Linked DNA regions of Homo sapiens: region 2 is linked to region 1. The links come from fine-mapping of genetic effects on gene expression. Tissue or cell type: whole blood. Region 1 holds a variant in brackets; the other region holds the start of a gene. All regions are shown on one strand. Distances are from middle to middle.

Region 1 (2,682 bases):
CCAGCCTGGGCAACAGAGCAAGCAAGATTCTATCTCAAAAAAAAAAAAAAAAAAAATGGAGTGATTGCTTTAAAATTCTTAAACAGGGCCGGGTGCGGTGGCTCACGCCTGTAATCCCAGCACTTTGGGAGGCAGAGGCAGGCGGATCACTAGGTCAAGAGATGGAGTCCATCCTGGCCAACGTGGTGAAACCCTGTCTCTACTAAAAATACAAATATTAGCTGGGCGTGGTGGCGGGCGCCTGTAGTCCCAGCTACTCAGGAGGCTGAGGCAGGAGAATTCCTTGAACCCAGGAGGCGGAGGTTGCAGTGAGCTGAGATCACGCCACTGCACTCCATCCTGGCGACAGAGTGAGACATTGTCTAAAAAAAAAAAAAAAAATTCCTAAACAGGAGGGGCTTAGGGCCAGCCAGTTGGTCACATGAAACAATCAGGGGACTTACCTTAGAGCTGCCTTCGCAGTAGGGAGTCCATGGTTTTTAGTGAGATTTGTGTCGTACAAATTAATTAAAATTGCATAGTTTCTATCAAGTTTTTTTCTTACACTTTCCACAAAATTGGGAAAAATGTCTATTTCCCATTTCTTTATTTCATTTTCTCTTATTGCTTCTATCCTACCTGATATTTCCCATTTCAAAAGCACGTTTTTTTTTTTGAGATGCAGTCTTGCTCTGTCGCCCAGGCTGGAGTGCAGTGGTGCCATCTCGGCTCACTGCAAGCTCCACCTCCCGGGTTCACGCCATGCTCCTGCCTCAGCTTCCCGAGTAGCTGGGACTACAAGCACCTACCACCATTTTTTGTGTTTTTTAGTAGAGACAGGGTTTCACTGTGTTAGCCAGGATGGTCTCTATCTCCTGACCTCGTGATCCACCCCGCCTCGGCCTCCCGAAGTGCTGGGATTACAGGTGTGAGCCACCGCGCCCGGCCCAAAAGCACTTTTTAAATGTTGAGGTGGTTTGAAGGCTAATGGAAATTACGAGGTGGGACTGAAACCATTCCCTGCCATCCCTAAGAAAGCCCACTCCTTGGAACTGCCACTGGTGAAAGTCTCACTCTGTCACCCAGGCCAGAGTGCAGTGGCACAATCTCAGCTCACTGCAACCTCTGCCTCCCAGGTTCAAGCGATCCTCCCACCTCAGCCCCGCAAGTTGCTGGGACTACAGGTGCCCACCACCATGCCTGGCTAATTTTTTTTTTTTTTTTTAAGTAGAGACGGGGTTTCACCGTATTGCCCAGGCTGATCTCAAACTCCTGAGCTCAAGTGATCTGCCTGCCTCAGCCTCCCAAAGTGCTGGGATTACAGGCATGAGCCACCGCGCCCGGCCTGAAAGCATTTTAGAAGGCTCCTGACTGAAAGAACGGGATAAAGTAAGGGGGTATGGGAACAGAAGATGACAGCCTGGTATATCTGGGTGACATGCGTAGGCAGTCTGTTGTAGTGGCAATTGTCAGGGCTCTGGAGTTAGACTGTCTTCTTTCAAATCTTGCAAGCTGTCTGATCTCGGGCGATTTACTTAACCTCTCTGAGAGTTCTGTAAAGTGGAGAATAAGAATACCACCCTACAGATGATGAGGATTCAATGAGATTGGGCTGGATACAAATCAGCTTTTGTTGGCATCAGCTTGAGAGGAGGGATGGACTTGGGAGTGGAGAGGGTGGATTTGGGGGAGAGGA[C/T]GCCACACAGTGGCAGGAACTCGCAGCAGGTGACTGAGAGTGGAAGGCACAAGAGAGCCCAGATGCTGAGCCAGCTCAGAATAGAAACGGTATTGATAGCAGAATGCAAAGCAGTATCACTCGAATGACGGATGTTTAATTGGATTTCTCCAGGGCTGACTCACCGCCTTTGATAGATGCGATTGCCCTCGTGGTGTCTATCATGAGACTTGAAATTTTTCCACCTGCACCTGCAGTCTTTAGGCCTTGTTTCAACAAAATGCAGTACTGTGTGTACCCTCCATGCCTGCCAGCCTTCCTTCCTTCCTTGTGTATTTACTGCAATGTATCAGGGACGGGGTGGTGTGCTAGAACCATGAAGGAAAAAGGCAAAGTCCCTTAAAGGAGGTGCAGTCTGTTGAGGCAGAAACACAAATGCCTAGATGGTTCTGGAATGCCTAGATGTCAATGGGATAACAAGGGGGCTATGGCTGCAGGAAGGAAGAGGACCTGATGTAGCTGAGGGCATCAGGAAGATTCCAGAAGGAGAAGGGATTAGTGAAGCTGCAGAGCACTTAGTTTGAGACAAAGATTTCTGAGCTGAGGGAGGAGTTGGGCAAAGGCTTGAGTGCAGGAGTTCAAGAGAACTCCTTGGGGCCAGGCTTTACACAGGGATGCACATGGGCTGTGTACCAGTCTGTTCTGACACTGCTGTAAAGATACTACCCGAGACTGGGTCATTTATAAAGGAAAGAAGTTTAATTGACTCACAGTTCTGCATGGCTGGGGAGGCCTCAGGAAACTTGCAGTCATGGCAGACGGCGAAGGGAAAGCAAGCACGTCTTACGTGGCGGCAGGAGAGAGACAGCACAAGAGAAAATGAGTGTAGGAAGTGCCACATTTAAAACCAGCAGCTCTCTTGAACTCCTGCACTCAAGCGATCCTCCTGCCTCGGCCTCCCTTAGTTCTGGGATAACAGGCAGGAGCTGCTGTGCCCACCTGGAGCTTAATCTCTGTTCACATCTTTA
Region 2 (2,682 bases), 120 kb before region 1:
AACCACATCTCCATTAAAAATACAAAAAATTAGCTGGGCATGGTGGCACGCCTGTAGTCGCAGCTACTCAGGAGCTTGAACCCAGGAGGTGGAGGTTTCAGTGAGCCGAGACTATGCCACTGCACTCCAGCCTGGGTGACAGAGAGAAAAAAACAGTTGTACCAATTTATACTCCCACTAGCATTAGATAAAAGTTCAAATTATGCCAGGCATGGTGTCTCACATCTGTAACCCCAGCATTTTTGGACTCTGTCTCAAAAAAAAAATCCACATCTTTTACAACACATGATTGTTAGATTTTTTAGTTTTTGCCTATCGGATGATATATTCTTATTTACATTTTCATTTTCCTTATTACTAAGGGGGTTGAGCAGCTTCTCACATTAGGCCTTCCTCCTCTGCCCACATGACATGACTATTCATATTCTTTCCCTGTTTCCTACTGGGATATCATTTTCTTTTTTTCGTTTCTTTTCTTTTTTTGAGACGGAGTTTTCCTCTTGTTGCCCAGGCTGGAGTGCAATGGCATGATCTCGGATGACTGAAACCTCTGCCTCCCAGGTTCAAGCGATTCTCCTGCCTCAGCCTCCCGAGTAGCTGGAATTACAGGCCTGCGCCATCACAGCTGGCTAATTTTTGTATTTTCAGTAAAGATGGGGTTTCACCATGTTGGCCAGGCTAGTCTCAAACTCCTGGCCTCAAGTGATCCACCCACCTCGGCCTCCCAAAGTGCTGGGATTACAGGCATGAGCCATCGTGCCCAGGCACTGCCATGGTGTTTTTTGTTTGTTTGTTTGTTTGTTTTTAAAGATAAACCTCTGGGGTTTCTGGAAAGTAAAGCCCCATGCTCCAAACAGCTCTGCTATACCTGTGTGCAAAATATTTTCATCTCTCTCTCTCTCTCCCCAAAGTGCATGCAAACACATATGGAACTGACATAGGCATCCACTGTCGCACTTCAAATTAAACAGACGCACACGACAGATATTCTCACAGAAAAGCAGTCAGCCAAGCCCAGAACCCATAGATCTAGGTCCACACTCACGCCTCTGCATGCTCCCCAGAAAGACGGATGCATCGCCCGCAGGTAGAGACGGGCTCACCAATCCCACTCAAAACCCGCTGCCGGCTTACAGCTCGCAAGCCGCCCACAGTGCCAGCCCCATGCCAAGCATCACTAGGGGCTCTAGAATAGGCAGGGGCCTTGTTCTCACTTCCTTTGTGTTGCTTTTATTTTAGTTGTTTTGTTTGTTGTTTTTCTTAGAGTTATCACCTGCCCCTCTGTCTCCCTACCCAGCCCCCAAGCCTCCCCTCCAAGCCTCCACTGCGCATGTGCCGTGCATCCCTGCCCCTTCTGGGTACCCGTAGGCGCTCCCGGGCGCTGGCGGCGGCGGAGGAGAGGGAGCAGCGTCACGGGCGCCCGGCCCGTTAAAACGCTGCTGGCTGGAGCCACCTCCCTCCCTGCAGCCCGCAACGGGAATGGAGTAAAGGGAGACCCGTCGACCTGGCCACGGGGATCAGCGATGGAATTAAAGCAATCTTTGTCCACCCATCTGGAAGCCGAGAAGCCTCTGAGGCGCTATGGGGCGGTGGAGGAGACGGCTTGGAAAACGGAGAGACTGGGGAGAAGTGAGTACTGGGGCGGGGGGCGGGGGGCCGGGGACAGCTGGGGATCCATGCGCCTGCGCGGGTGGTCGCGGGAGCGCGAGGAACGCCAGCAGTGGACCCAGGGAAGCGCCCCCGCAGCGGGGCTGGCAGCTCAGGGGGATACGCAGCTCTGCGCAGCGACGCGCTCTCCCCGCGAACAAAAGGGGGGGACCCTCCGGGCTGAGCCTCACTGGGAGGGTTGGGAGATGGCCAGGCAGCTAAGGCAGGAGCCTGGGCTCGACTTAGGAGTCCCGGATCCGTCAGCTCGCAGCTGGTCCTGTGAAGTCGGGTCTCTCCCACAGCCCAGGGAGGAGGATCCTCTCTCCGCCTGGGATGCGCCAGGGCGCTGGAGACGCGGGACCGTCCTGGAAAGCGCCCACGTCCCTGGAGAGGGGGGAGTGTCTGCTGGTTTTCCGCTTGCTTTCCTACCCCCTGCGTGAGGTTTCGGAGCGCACCTGAAATTCCCAGCTTTTCCTCCCTCGCCTTCCTTGGGTCGGGGTGGGAGGCTTGGGGCGGCAAAAGGGTCAAAAGGCACACACCGTTCTCTTTTCTCTCTTGACTCAGTTAAAGTCTGCTTGGGCACAACTCTAGAAGGCAGTTTCGAAATAGACCGGCTGTATTTATTTACTGGTTCTCTCTGCGGTGTTTGGATGTCAACATTTCTAAGTAAACGAAGGATTTTGTTTTTCATTAATAGGATACAATAGTTGAAACTCCTGCCCTCAAAGTGTAGAGGCAGCGTCAGGGGCTCCAGGGTCACTGGAGGTCCCTGCAAACCCGGGGGCTCCCCAAAGCCGCTGCTCTCACATGGCTTGCCCACCAGGCTGGGAAGGAGAGGTCCTTCTCAGGGACCCGGCAGCTTCCTGCCTCGGCTCTGGGTCACTGCTCCGCGCTCTGCCCCAGCACGGATCTCTGAGCGATGTAGGGCTAAAGTATTGTGAATGTGATCTTATTCTGTCCTCACCTGGTGGAAAATTGTGTGTGCGCGCTTTCTTTCTCTATACCTGTAATTATGGATTTAGAAAATCTTCCTAG

The links. PIP is the estimated chance that this variant, and not a neighbour inherited with it, causes the effect.
Region 2: BMERB1 starts here. The variant in region 1 is fine-mapped to the expression of BMERB1 in whole blood (TOPMed, PIP above 0.99). The same link has a PIP of 0.9 or more in nasal epithelium.

What each region holds. Positions count from the first base shown.
Region 1 is chr16:15,549,313-15,551,994 of GRCh38, forward strand. The region is part of intron 2 of MPV17L-BMERB1 (MPV17L-BMERB1 readthrough); the gene reads left to right. All of the region lies in intron 2 of BMERB1 (bMERB domain containing 1), which reads left to right. Among named protein-coding and RNA genes, the nearest start is that of MIR6506, 60 kb to the right of the region's middle. The variant C/T (reference allele first, on the strand shown) is at 1,676.
Region 2 is chr16:15,433,131-15,435,812 of GRCh38, forward strand. It overlaps BMERB1 (bMERB domain containing 1), which reads left to right and starts at 1,458. Exons shown (of 6, transcript NM_033201.3): 1 at 1,458-1,629. The coding sequence starts at 1,524. The region is part of intron 1 of MPV17L-BMERB1 (MPV17L-BMERB1 readthrough); the gene reads left to right. RefSeq lists an enhancer at 1,762-2,384.